Linked DNA regions of Homo sapiens. The protein of the gene in region 1 interacts with the protein of each later gene in a biochemical or structural test. Each region holds a gene or a part of one and is shown on either strand. Other genes may lie near its edges.

Evidence for each region.
Region 2: the proteins of PRKAR2B (region 1) and CFAP91 form a complex in vitro, tested with the Homo sapiens proteins (one study listed by BioGRID).

Annotation. Positions count from the first base shown.
Region 1 is NC_000007.14:107,047,688-107,054,710, reverse strand, and holds part of PRKAR2B (cAMP-dependent protein kinase type II-beta regulatory subunit), read right to left. Parts: intron 1-7,023. UniProt on the Homo sapiens protein: Regulatory subunit of the cAMP-dependent protein kinases involved in cAMP signaling in cells. Type II regulatory chains mediate membrane association by binding to anchoring proteins, including the MAP2 kinase.
Region 2 is NC_000003.12:119,698,183-119,706,044, forward strand, and holds the start of CFAP91 (cilia- and flagella-associated protein 91), read left to right. Parts: upstream 1-4,839; 5' UTR 4,840-4,916; coding exon 4,917-5,040; coding exon of another isoform or gene 5,041-5,089; intron 5,090-7,862. UniProt on the Homo sapiens protein: Involved in sperm flagellum axonemal organization and function. May regulate cilium motility through its role in the assembly of the axonemal radial spokes.

The DNA of each region.
Region 1 (7,023 bases):
CTGTGAGCAAAGCACAACACATACAGGAAAGACTTAGAAAGAGAGGGTATATTCCTGCACATTCTTGCCTACCTAGACTGAGGACCCTTGACATCTGCAAAGTTGACTGATGGAGGCCATATTCATCCTACCATATTGATAGTATTAACGTCAAGGAGGGAAACTTGCAAAAATATTTGGTAGGGTAAAATATAAACTAAACCTTTGGGAAAAGAGTGAGATTTAGCAGAAAGACAGGGAGAGGGGAGTGAGAATTCAGGACCAAGAGAATGACTTAAGACAAGAATATTTGGCTATATCAATTTAGAATCATGTCATGTGCCGCTATATACCGTGGTTTTTGTTTGTTTTGTTGTTTTGTTTTGTTTTGAGATGGAGTCTCACTCTGTCAAGCAGTGCTGCGATCTCAGCTCACTGCAAGCTCTGCCTCTCGGGTTCACGCCATTCTCCTGCCTCAGCCTCCCGAGTAGCTGGGACTACAGGCAACTGCCACCACGCCAGGCTAATTTTTTTGTGTGTATTTTTAGTAGAGACGGGGTTTCACCAAGTTAGTCAGGATGGTCTCGATTTCCTGACCTCATGATTCGCCCGCCTCGGCCTCCCAAAGTGCTGGGATTACAGGCTGTGAGCCACCACACACGGCCTACTGTGTTTTATTTACTACTTAATGCATATTTACAAAAGAATTGCCTTTCTTTCATGTATTTTTACACTTATTTAATAGGTAATCCAAGCACATGCTAAACATTTTTCAAAAGTTACAAGAAAGCAAATAGTGAACGATCTCTCTCCTAACAAAATAACCTGAAATACTCTATGAAATTGCATTTCTTTTCAACTATTCTAAACTTTAGACTTTCTTCTAATTCTGACTGGTATTTCCATAATTTACTGATTCCTAACCAGAAAACTATAATACGATTCTCTTTGTCCCATCCACAAATGTTGCACCAAAAACATTACCACTATACAATTGGAATTCAAGGTATATACAGGAAAACAGGTTTTAAAAGAAAAAGCCTGGATTTTCCCCTTCAGGTAACGTAGTTTTACTTCCTTTTTATAAGATAGAATTTTCCTCTGTATTCTGCCAACTTCTGTTGAGTCAATTAACTTACCGAGTGACTGTCTTTTAAAAAAGACACACACACACACACACACACACACACACACACACACACACACTCTTTATAATCTAGAAGCTTGAATCAGGGAACCAAAATTGATCATGGCTACTTTATATATTACTAGAGTATCAATTTAAGTGGTATTGTTTACAGCTGTAGTCTCCAAAACGGGGTTCATGTATGCCAAAACAGTGTATAAGGCTATATGTTGGGATGTAGGAGAAAATTACAACTTGCTTAGAATTGCTTTTTACTTTCTCCTTTCAAAATTTATATTGTAGGAAGCTTTATCATACATATAAGTCAATATATTGTCACATGTATAAAATTTATCAACATATATTGGGGTGTACACTCAAATATATTTTGCTAATAAAGGTATATAATAAAATAAATTTAGAGAATTAAGCAGCTCAGTACATGAGGTGATTATTTCTAAAATAAATAAATGTAGGCTGGGTGTGGTGGCTCTTGCCTATAATCCCAGTATTTTGGGAGGCTGAGGCAGGTGGGATCACTTGAGGCCAGGAGTTCCAGACCAGCCTTGCCAACATGGAAAAACCTTGTCTCTACCAAAAATACAAAAATTAGGCAGACATGGTGGCACACACCTGTAATCCCAGCTACTCAGGAAGCTGAGGCAGGAGAATCACTTGAACCCAGAGGCAGAGGCTGCAGTGAGCCAAGATGGCACCACTGCACTCCAGCCTGGGCAACAGAGCAAGACTCTGTCAAAAACAAAATAAAATAAAATAAACAAATGTACTGAGTTTCTAAGGTACATGAAATGCTAATTTGGGTTGAATAGACAGAGAATGCAAATTGTAAAAGGGAGAGATCAATGCAGGGCTAGCCTGCAAACTTTTAGAGGGAAAAGTAGGTAGCTTATTTTTTGATATGTGCTTATTTTCAACCACGTTACTGCTAAAAGAATTACTGAAATGAAGTGTATAAACCGTGGTTGAAGAGGAAGACCCTGAAGTCAGATTACCAGGTTCAAACCTTGATTCCACCAATTACTCTGGGGAAGACTAAATCACATATGTGTAAAGCATCTGTTCAGATGACAATGTGTAAAGCACTGTTCCACATCTGATACATCAGTAGTCAAAAATGTTAATAATAACTAGTATTAAATAAAAAGGACACCATTTATTTATTTTTTTGAGACAGAGTATACCTCTGTTGCCCAAGCTGGAGTGCAGTGGCGCAATCTCGGCTCACTGCAACCTCCGTCTCCAGGGTTCAAGCGATTCTCCTGCTTCAGCCTCCCAAGCAGCTGGGATTAAGGCGCCCGCCACCACGCCCAGCTAATTTTTGTATTTTTAGTAGAGATGGGGTTTCACCATGTTGGCCAGGCTGGTGTCCTATTCCTGACCTCAGGTGATCCGCCCGCATCGGCCTCCCAGAGTGCTGGGAATTATAGACATGAGCCACCGTGCCCGGCCTAAAAGGACACCATTTAAAAGACATTAGTTTTCTATAATAATGAGAACGAAACAGCCGAATCATGTTTTAATTCAACATGACCTTTGAAAAAGATGCTCTTTGGGTGTAACTGAAATATATTAGAACAAATGGAACAAACGGCTTTTTTCCTTCTCTTTTTACCCCCCAAATTCCCCTCAACATCACTCCCATGGACTATTTTGTCTTGGAACAGCTAATGTAAATTAAACAATGTCATCCTTAGTCAAACAGATACAGGAATAACTGTATACAGTATATCTTCTTGGCTTCACTTTTATGTGGAACATGTGTTTACATTTTGACCTTTTGTCTTTTTTTTAATTAAGAAACATTTTTAAACAGCAGCAACTGGAAAGACTTTTTTTTTTAGTTTCCAAACATATTAAGCTACACATGGCAGAGCCTATTGCTGAAACATTTATAAATGTTACACCAACTGTTTATAGTTCTGATTTTCTTATTTGATTGTTTTGTTGTCATGTAAGCCATGACCTGAAAATTTTAGCTCAAATTCTTTCCATAAAATTACATAATGAAACCGTCTGAGTCATTTTGAATTTGTGAAGCACAAAATTCGCTCTCATAAAATAATGATAAGCATCATAGTGAGGTTTTTAGAGTAGGATTTTGTGACTGTCCCAACCACAACTAGATGATATAGATAAGACAGGAAGGACAAGAACAGGATCAAGAACACAGTAACAATTCATTCAATTCAGAAAAATCACTGCATTCTTGTTTCTTTTCCATTGTCTCTTCTTAAGCAAGTGATAGGAAAATATAGTCTAATATTAGATTTCACTTCATTGAAAAAGAATCAAAGAACAAAAAAACCTGGAAATTCTGAAGACAAAAGTACTTTTCTTTAGCCCATCCTTTTAAACCTTATCAATCAACTTGATGGAAGACAGAAAAAATTCATATGATGTAAGTTAATATAAATAGCGCACAAAATGTTGGCAACAGTTGTATGAACAAACTCAAATTTATAAGGCCAAAACCTACCAAATTTGGATAAGGAACTTCTCTGTCTCTCACCTGCCCCATCTATTAACAAAATTGATCATACATACTATCTATGAGGCCATCTCTGACAAAAGGATGGTGTCTTAAGTCTAGGCAGGGAGCAGTGGCTCACGCCTCTAATTCCAACACTTTCGGAAGCTGAGGCAAAAGGACTGCTTGAAGCCAGGAGTTCAAGACCAGCCTGGGCAAGAAAGGAAGACCCATCTCTACCAAAAAACAAACAAAAACAGAAAAAAATGAAGTCTAAAGAGAGTAAATGTAAGACGAATCATTTCTTTTTTCTTAAAATAAGAACTATCCTACCTTCCAAGTTTCACACATTGTTTCTAATAGGCCATCCCAGATCTCAGCACTTTCTGTGATTCTCCACACTTCTAAAGTAGACCCTGCAGTTAGTCACTTCAGTCTTCTTCACTGAATCTCTCACCTTAAAATATTCCATCATTCCCCAACCTCCACTGTAGGACTTTATTACTACTACTACTGACAAACGATTTTCTTAATGGGTCAAAAATAAACCCCAAATTGATGGATTCATAGGTCCCCTGTTTGTATTTGCACAACTGAAAAAGAAACACAATTGTTTTTCAACATAGCTGTTAACAAAATCTTGACGGCTGGAAATTTACTGGAATCCATGGAATGAGATTTGCAACAATAAAATAACCATTCAATATTCACTCCTGTTCTACCCAGACACAGCACATCAATTTATGTGCATCCACAAAAAAAAAAAAAAAAAAAAAAAAAAAAAGCTGGTAACTGTCTTATCTAAAATAATAGCTAAATGGTTTGGTTTTTGATAGAAAAATTAAAGTACTAATGCTTCAATTTCTGTTTAGGTGTTTCCATTGTATGTCTTCAAAGTGTAAGTTACTCAAGCAAGCCTTCACAACTGGTTTTACTTCTCTCTTGCTCTCTCCCTCCCCCTTTCCCTTCTGACTTCATTATCTTTCTCCCTCTACCACCCTTCTTCCAAAGCCCAAAGTAATAGATGGTAAGAGAAGGGGTTTTTTGGTTTCCCAATTTCAACCCCTAAAGCAATCCACCTACTATTACTAGTAAAATGAATAATGTTCTTAACTTCTGCTTTGAAAATCACAATCACTATCTCTAACTCAAAATAATTTTTATTATCTTTTCTGACACTATTGTTTTATGCTCATAACTAAAATAATGGCTTCAATATTTTAGCCATTGTCATGAATGATTTAATCCATTTCAGGAGGATTTAAAACCACCATGTAAATCTCTAATAGCCAAAAACTATAAAGTCTCATTAATTACAAAATCCTGGAGCTCTTAGCTACAAATTATGAGCTGAAAAGATATGGATTTTATTACTGTATAACATTAAATCCTAAGTAAAACTGCCACATAAGCTCATTCCCTGCTTCACCTCGCCAAGAAGTGCAATACTGGATTCATTTCCATAAAACACAATGAAATTGCTATTCTGCAAAAAAAAAAGTATATAACTCTGTAAGATTTTATATCAATGATATAAACTTTACAATATTTTGCTTGACCTTAAGGATGTTTTGTAAATTCTCCAAATTCCCTTTGAACTGTAAAAACCAAAAGGTAGGTAAGATTCCAACAAGACTGGACATGGGACAGAGTTAAGAGGATTAAGCCACAGTTATTACATGGTAAATTTCTATTTATTACTTTTGATATGCTTGTCTTATGGGGTATGAGTCTATATTTTTGGTATGTGTATCTACTTTGAACTCTAGATCTTTTTCTTCTATAACTCAGAAAATCAGCTCTTTATTTTCTATCACGGTAGTTATTTTTTCTCCCAGGTTGACTGCTCTGCATGTGCCCATGTGTAGTTAATTTTGTTTCTGACCACTTGTCCATTTATCAGAGTAATCTGAATGGTATTTACTTCATTTTTTGTTTCAGCAATTCCACTGAAGAAATTATGGGGCAACACAAGATCTCTTGATGATGCCTATATAAAATCATGAATTACCACAGATTTTACTCCAAACTAGTACTGATGCAATGCTATAGCCTACCGTAAACCTTCTAAGAAATTCAAGGCCTAGGGATGCTACCCTTTCAGACATGACATGTCAAACTGTATTTGCTTTCTCTAGGACGGGGAAGAGGGAGACAGAGTAGATGCCAAGAGGTTTCCATTATGGCTTCTTTCTGGCCTTTGAGAGTTTCCCTAGAAAGGGTCACCATAAGCCACTATCATTCTAACATCTAAAGCTTGCTCTTTCGACCAGAATTGATAGCAAATGGAAAGTAACAATTAGAATTTATAAGACTGGAAGAGAATAGGAGAGGGAAAAGAAAGCTATTAGAAGAGGAAGGGATCCTTTGGAAAGGTAGGAAAGAAGATGACCTTCACCCATCTGACTGTTTGCTCTAGCGCCACCTACAGCCACACCACCTGACCCTCAAAAATCACCGACCCCTGGCCAGACAACATTTTTTCCAGCTAACTGCAGGTGCCTGGCTTATTTGATTAAACCACCACATTATAAGGTCAAGGTCACATGCTTGATCCCTACGTTTGTCCTACGTTTGTCAATGGGCACAAGTTGCATGGTCAAAAACTTGCCTTTTAACTCCAACCTCTCATAAATACCATCACTTACGTTAAAGACATTCACAAGAGAGGATATGAACCAACAATGCAAATCCATCAGCATTACTAAAAGAAAAAAAAACAGGAAAACCTGACTTGTGAGTCAGCCCACAGAACAAATTCCATTTAAGAACTCCCTGATCATCCTGGGCTTCAAGGTTAGATACATAAGAGTAAGAAATCAGGCTTCCCTACTTACTCGTTTTATGTGTGACCTTGGACAAGTTAATTTTTCAGAGCTTTAACAATAAAACACATTAAGGGTCCCAAATAGAGCTTGACATATAAGGGATACTCAGGTTATGCTAGCCCCAGCCCCATCTGGAGATAGAATCGGGCAGTCAAGAGCACAGGGATGAAGCCAGGTCCACCTGTATCCCAATCTTGATTTTGCAGCTCACGTGAAACACTGGGCAAGTGATGGCCTTATCGTTCTCATAAAGCTGAGACAAAAAAATTAAAGCATTTAGACAGCACACAGCAATTGTCAACTAACGGCAATTATGTTTTAAATGTTAAGAAGAATATAGTATTATCACTATCTGTTAATGTTTTCCAAAGTACAGTCATGGAACTATTGATATCAGAATGACCTGGGTGGGATGTCTACTGAGGGGGAAGAAAAGGATATCATGTCCCATCTCAACCTATTTAAAAAAGCTCTCCAAAAATGGTACAGGGTAATGGTCATTTCTGAATCAAACTTCCTTGAGATATCTATGAAAATTTCAGAATTACTGACCCAGCAGGTCTTGTGCTGTGTCATAGTAAATTAAGACTTGTTTTCCAATC
Region 2 (7,862 bases), on another chromosome or scaffold:
AATCCCAGCTACTCAGGATGCTGAGGCAGGAGAATCACTTGAATCTGGGAGGTGGAGGTTGCAGTGAGCCAAGATTGTGCCACTGCACTCCAGCCTGGGCAACAGAGCAAGACTCCATCTCAAAACAAAAACAAAAAACAAACAAACAAAAGTATACTCTAAATTTCTCCCAAAGTTAGCTTGGCTCATGTCCCAGAATGAGCAAAGACAGCCAACCTGTGAGGCTAGAGTCAAGATGGACTCAGCCATGTCAGATTTTTCTCACTGTCATAATTTTCTCAGTTATAATCTTTTGCAAAGGTGGTTTTACTGGCCTAAGAGATATGGATGAATTCAGGGTGAACAGGACATTTGAGGTCTCTGGTCTCACAGAGCTTACATTCTAGTGGGAGGAGATATAATAAATAAGCAAATCAGTAACATTTCAGTGCTATAAAAAAAATCAAGGTAATAGTGTCTTCGGATGTGTTTATGGAGGCTGCTGGCTGTTGACTACCTTAGATAGTTTATCTGATAGAATGAGGAAAAGAAGTCTTTCTTCTTCTTCTTTTCTTTCTTTTTTTTTTGAGACAGAGTCTTGCTCTTGTTGCCCAGGCTAGAGTGCAGTGGTGCCATCTCAGCTCACTGCAACCTCCGCCTCCCAGGTTCAAGCAATTCTCCTGCCTCAGCCTCCTGAGTAGCTGGGATTACAGGCGCCTACCACCACGCCTGGCTAATTTTTTTGTATTTTTAGTAGAGACGGGGTTTCACCATGTTGGTCAGGCTGGTCTTGAACTCCTGGCCTCAGGTGATCTGCCTGCCTCAGCCTCCCAAAGTGCTGGGATTACAGGCGTAAGTCACCATGGCTGGCTGAGGAAAAGTCTTTCTGATGAGATTGCCAGAGGCGTTTAAACCTGGGCAACTCCATTTTGAGTAGGGGCTAGGTAAAATAAGGCTGAGACCTACTGGGCTACATTTCCAGATGGTTAGGCATTCTAAGTCACAGTATGAGACAGGAGGTCAGCACAAGATACAGGTCATAAAGACCTTGCTGATAAAACAGATTGCAGCAAAGAAGCTGGCTAAAACCCACCAAAACCAAGATGGCCATGAGAGTGACCTCTGGTTTTGCTCACTGTTACACTCCCACAGTAGCATGACAGTTTACAAATGCCATGGCATGTCAGGAAGTTACCCTGTATGGTCTAAAAGGGAAGGCATGGATAATCCACACCTTGTTTAGCATATCATCAAGAAATAATCAGAGCCCTCGGGGGTGCTCTGTCTGTGGAATAGCCATTGTTTTATTCCTTTACATTCTTAATAAACTTGTTTTCACTTTATGGACTCGCCCTGAATTCTGTCTTGCGTGAGATCCAAGAACATTCTCTTGGGGTCTGGATGCAGACCCCTTTCCGGTATAGAGAGAACATTTTAGGTGATGTCATATGTTGAGGAGCTAGCTGTGAGAAGATAAGGAGGTGGGAGTGAGGAACATTGAGAAGAAGAAACGAAAAGTGGGCGGCTCTGAGAACGTAGCTGTACCCCAGACAGAAAAGTACTATACCATTATTATATTGTACTTTGCTTCTGTGTCAGCTTTCTCTATCATCCAGTGAGCTGTACAAATTATCTCAAAATCTTTAACACCTATTATATAGTAGACATTCAGTAAATTTATTTAACAAAGGGATGGATTTAGTAATCATTTCATTAAGATTTCATGTACCAGATACCTCAGAGATACAAAAATGACCAGGTGAAGGGCTGTGCCCTCAGTGAACTCAAAGTTGTGGGAAGCAGAGTTGTGAACAATTACTGATTACTAATACAAGGTGGTCAATGCTATTGGTGCTACTACAGCATTGGAAGGATGATATCTCACTGTATTTGAAAGATATGAGGAAACTGCATAGAAGTGGCAAAGTTAGAGGTGAGTGTTGAAATGTACCTAAATTAGTTGAGGGGTGTTAAAGAAAAAATTATTCAATGATCTTATTAAGGCATGGACAGGCAGAGTGCGTTCAAGACCATTGCAATAGATATAGGAATTACTGCAACAGGGTCTTGTAGTTGGGGGAGGGATTGGGTTCAACTCCGAATATAGCATAAGCAAGTAGAAATTTATAGCAAAGAGCAGGCTGAGGGTCAGTGGATGAAAAATTACTAAGAGGAAATATCAGAGGTAAAGAGAATTCTGGTTAAACTCATCTCAAAGGATTCTTGCTGAAGACAGCCAGGGTAATCAGACTTCACCTGGGGGTGAAAAGCGAAAGCGAAGGATGAGGACCCCAGTCAGATATCTAGGATGGGGGATTCTTACCAAACTGACATAGCACGGTTCTTTGCTAAAACTGGATTTTACAAGAAAGTACACAGACAGACCTAGGACATGGCTGGTTTTCAAAAACCCCAAGAAGTTTAGGAGTAGAGACAATAAGTTAAAACCAGGAGTATATGCAGAAAGAGTAGTAGGCCAGGAAGCGTATTCAGGAAGTGTCTGTGGATCACATTGAGGGACTAAGTGGCTAAGTTGGCTGGACTTCCTGGTTCAATAGGGACTTCCCTAAGGGGACTTTCCCCTAAGCCAAAATGAGTCATAGCTGCAAGCTAAGGGATTGAAACTTCAACCAATCAAAGGGGACTTTCCCCTAAGCCAAAGTGAGTCCCAGCTGCAAATTAAGGGATTGAAACTTCAGCCAATCATATAGAGAGTTTAAGCTCTAGCTGCAGCCTGATGTTTTTAACCAATCAGGCCCACCAACCTAAGAGAGGAGACCACCCCTCATATTGTGTTATGCCCAATTTCTGCCTCCAAAGAAAGAAGAATTTAAAACAAAAAGGCAGAAATGAAATCCACAGGCAGACAGCCCAGCACTGTGCTCTGGGCCTGGTAGTTACAGATTGACCCCTGACCTAACCGATATGTTATCTATAGATTCCAGACATTGTATGGAAAAGCATTGTGAAAATCCCTGTCCTATTCTGTTCTGTTCCGATTACCAGTGCATGCAGCTCCCAGTCACATACCCACTACTTGCTCAATCGATCACGACCCACTCACGCAGACCCTCTTAGAGTTGTATGCCCTTAAAAGGGACAGGAATTGCTCACTCCGGGAGCTCGGTTTTCGAAGATGTGAGTCCGCCAATGCTCCCAGCTGAATAAAGCCCTTTCCTTCCATAACTCGGTGTCTGAGCGGTTCTTGTCTGTGGCTCGTCCGGCTACAAACCCACAAGTGGATAGAAAATAACCTAATCCTATGGGACAGAAAAAGGAAAAGGGGAGGAGTCATAAGGGGATATAAACATAAGATACCCAAACCAGAAATGGCAACCCTTCCAGGTTCCCTTCCACCACGTGGAAGCTTTACTTTCGCTTTCCCTTTACTTTTGCTTTGGCTTTAATAAATCTTGCCACCGCACAGTCTTTGGGTCCACGCATTTCTCTAGTGAAGCTGTAACACTTGCCACTGTGGTCCACGGCTTCATTCCTTGAAGCCTGTGAGACCATGAACCCTTCGATCGAGAAAAACCTTTGATCGGAAGAAGACTTCTCGTCTCAACATTAAAGGACAAAGAAGCCAACTCTAAGGCATGCCATTAGCTTTAATAATCTGAGTGTAATAAATAATAATGATCATAACGGATTAAAACATCAGATCTGTAAAAAATGCATGCATTCATAATGATATCAAACAAACAAAAACTTTGTGGTTAACTCTGGAGTTTGGTAGGGCACCAACTCATGTCTCTGAAATTTCATAATTAAAAAGAACAAATCCAGCATTTACCCAGTCTTTCCTCTATGAGATTATCCTGGTTATCTCAGGATAACCAATGAGTTGGTATGAAAAGATTCCTTTTATAGAAGAACCTCTGGTAATAATAGAGAATTATTGAAAGGATTAGAAATTCACTGCTCTAGGATAAAAGACTTAAGAGACATACCAAAATGCAACATGAGGACTTTTTTTGGATCTTGACTGGAACAAACCAACTATAAAAGATAATTTGGACTCAAACAGGAAAATTGGAATTATTTATAGTACTAAGGAATTATTGTTAATTTTGTTAGATATGATAACGGTAGTTAAATTTTTAAAATCTATGTCAGTTTGAGATGCAGACTAATTTAAGGGTAAAATAATATTATGTCTAGGATTTCTTTAAAAAAGAGGGGAAGGAAACTGAAACTTGATTGGCAAAATGTTGCTAAATGTTGATTCTGAGGGATGGGTTACTTGAGGGTTTGTTATTAAAAGTAGAATCACTTTTGCTTATGTTTAAAATTTTCCATTATAAATAGTTTTCAAAAGCAGAGCCAGTGCCTACCCCACATCATCTTCTGTTATTTAATGCCCAGGACTCAGAAAGGGTCAGCAGTCTCAGATCAACAGTTACTGATGTCCTAACCCATCCTAAACACTGATGCTAATGAGTGTGGGGCAAAGTTCACAGCGTGCTAAGGAGCAACATTTAGGAACCTGACTGGATTCCGCAGCTCTCGGGACAAGCCCCCTGGAAAAGGGCTGGGGGGAGGGGCGGGGAGGCACCCAATTATTCTAGAAGGTTCTGAGATCTCCCAGGGATTTCCGAGAGGCTACGAGGTGTAACTGGCAAATCAATGACTTAAGAGTAGCTTTCTCCCAGCCTCCCCGCTGGCTCTGGAGTATAGAGGGAAGCCAGCCTTTTCCTCCCCCATCCTGCCCCTCCCCTCTCTTCTCATCTTCCCCTCCACTCTCCTCCTGACCCTGGCCTGGCCACTCCTGCTTTCACTTCTCTCCACTCCTCTTCGGCCCCGCCCCGCGGCCTCCTCCCTCCTCCTTGCCCCGCCCCCTATCCCTGCGCGCCGGCGGCCGTTACCATAGCGACGTGCACGCAGTAGCCAGGCCTGACCCGCTGGTCCCTTGCTGGCGGGAGGAAAGAGGCGGCACCATGAGCCACGCAGTAACCATCGAGGAGCCCCAGGCCCAGCCGCAGGTGTCTCAAACTCGGTACCGGGAGAGGTCGCGGGCTGGGAGCCACATCTCCTCCAATCGAGCGTATGATTTTCTGTACGGTAAGGACCGCCGCAGACCTTCCTCCGCGTCCGTCGCCTCCTAGGCCAGGTGGGCTCCCAGATGGTGGGACCTGGCCAGGGGCATGGCGAACGAAACACGACCCTCTGGACTGACCTCTTGCCCACGGTTGTCCTTGGTCGGGTGGGGGCAGCTCCGAGCCCTCCAGGTGGCCGCACTCAGGTTGGGGTCGGGGGTTCGGGTACATCGAAAGGCGCGGGTGCGCTCCGCTTCGGGGGGCGATTTTCCTGAAACCTGTTCCGGGCGTTTTGGTACCCAGAAAGTGTGCAACGATTTGTACACTCGGAGATTCACTCAACGTTCCTGCATAAAATGCCCTACAAAAATGATCTTTTCTCTCCAACTCTCTGGGCAAATCCAAGTTGGGCGAAAAGAAGTGCCAGTTTATCCCATGCTTGTTTTTAGGTTTTTTGTTGTTGTTGTTGTTTGTTTTTTTTAACTTCTGCGTCAAAGCATTGCTTATAGACTGGGTCCGCTGGCTCCTCTTGGGCCAATAAAACCCCAGTTTATTTTAACGGCTTGGTTGTCCATTTTATGTTTTCTCTCTCTCCACGCTCCTTGAGTTCCTTAAGTTCCTGTTCTACACATTTTTGTAGCCTTCTGAGCACCTATTCTAGTGCTGATACATATACTAGGCGCTTCAATAAATAAATGTTTATTGAATTTGCCGTGGCAAGAACTGTAACCAGCTATAAGCATGATTTTTTCCAATTTTGCCCTCTGCAATCCCAGGTTTTTCACCTGAACCTTGCATTGCTTTCAGCAATGTGGTGTTGCCTCTGGGAATCCCAGTCTCCTTTGTGTGGGAATCTAGGGTACACATTCCTAGATAGAGGCTGTGTAATGATTGCTGACATATTCTGGCCAGTGTTTTTCTGTATTTACTCTTGGTTTTGTGAAATAAATCAAGTTAGCTCCTGTAAACACATCACCATGTTTTTTTTTCACGGGTAATTTGAGAAGGAGGACAAACATCTCCCCAAAGTATTTATTAAGCTGGTTGTTTCTTTGATGCCGAAGTGTCTCTTTTGCAGAGGAATTGCTAAATGTTTCCATGTCCCTTGCTAAGAACAGAAATTCACTCAGAGTAGATCAAATAAAAGTTTGGATTGTTATAAAACAATCTCGCCGCTAGTCATGGACAGGAAGCGAAGTATAGCCAGGGCGGATGAGAACCTGGATGGGGAAAATCAGAACTAAGATGCTGTGCTCTCCTGCTTTCTTTCTTTGACCTTATGACCTTTCACCTTGTTAGGGTTGCCACATTTAGCAAATAAAAATACAAGAGGCACCGTTAAGCTTGAATTTCAGATAATGAATAATATTTTAGTATAAATTTTTGTCCTGTGCAATATTTTGGAACACATTTATACTAAAAAATTATTCATTGTGTATCTGAATTTAAATTTAACTGGGCATCCTGTATTTTATCTGGCAACTCTAGCCTTCTTTCTATGTATAATCAAGCCCCAAGTAATGATATTTCGGTCAACAGTGGACTACATGTATAAGGATGGTCCCATAAGATTATAATGAAGTTGAAAAACTCCAATTACTTCGTGACATTGTAGCTGTCATAACATTGTAGCCCAATGCATCACTTTTTCTGTGTTTAGATATACAAATACCATTGTGTTACAACTGTCTACAGTATTCAGTACAATAACATGCTGTATGGGTTTGTAGCCTAGGAGCAATAGGCTATACTATATAGCCTAGGTGTGGAGTAGGCTATACCAGCTAGGTTTATGTTAAGTACCCTCTGATATTTACACAACGATAAGCTCACCTCATAACCCGTTTCTAAGAACGTATCCCCATCATTAAGCAACACATCTCTATGCTTGCTTCCTTCCATCTGACAGAAAGCCTCTTGTGTATGGATTTCTCTTACTATGATAGGGACTAGGGTGGCGTGCTTCTTGACTAATTAGCCCTAAAGCTCACCACCAATTGTATAGCGTCTTTGTGTATTGTAGCTGAAAATTTAAGTTAGAAATTTAAGATTGGTTGTTGGCTGGCCAATGAATTGACTGGCCTTGGGCCAGGTTTCCACCTTGACAGAACTGTGGTGGTGCAAAGATGAACACCTTTCCAGGTTCTTTTACCCTTCCTTATGAAGCCCTATGTGATTAGTTCCCTAGTTACTTCTCTGGCCTCTTATCTACTCTCTTTCCCCTCCTTCATTCTGCCTCATTTGTCCTGGTTTCTTTGCTATTCTTCAGACGTATCAGGCATGTTCCCATCCTAGGGACTTTGCTGTTCTTCAGATGTATCAGGCATGCTCCCATCCTAGAATGTTCTTCAGATATCTAACTAGCTAACTCCCTCACCTTCAAGTCTCCTTACATGCCACCTTCTCAAGGGCCTGCCCCGACCACCCTAGTTAAAATTGCAACCCAATCTTCCTTACCCGATTTCTTCTTTTTTAAAAATAACAACCCTCAAATTCTAATGTGTAATTTGCTAGTTTATTATGTTTGTTGTTTGTTGTCTCTCTCTCATGAAGTCAAAGATTTTTGTCGTTTTGTTGATGTATTCTAAGCACCTAGATAGAGTAGCCAGTCAATAAACATGTGTTGAATGAAGGAGCAAAAAGAGCCTGAGCCTCTTGCAGCTTTTCAGCCTTGGTGGGAATATCCAATGTCTGCATTCAGTAAATCGTATTTGTTGGGTTACTAATGAATTATTAGGTTTTAGGAATTGACACACATTATCCAAATTCAAAAGAGACTTGTTTCTAAATCACAATTCCCAAATTATTAATTTCTATGGAGAAATATGTGTTACCATGTTATCTAGA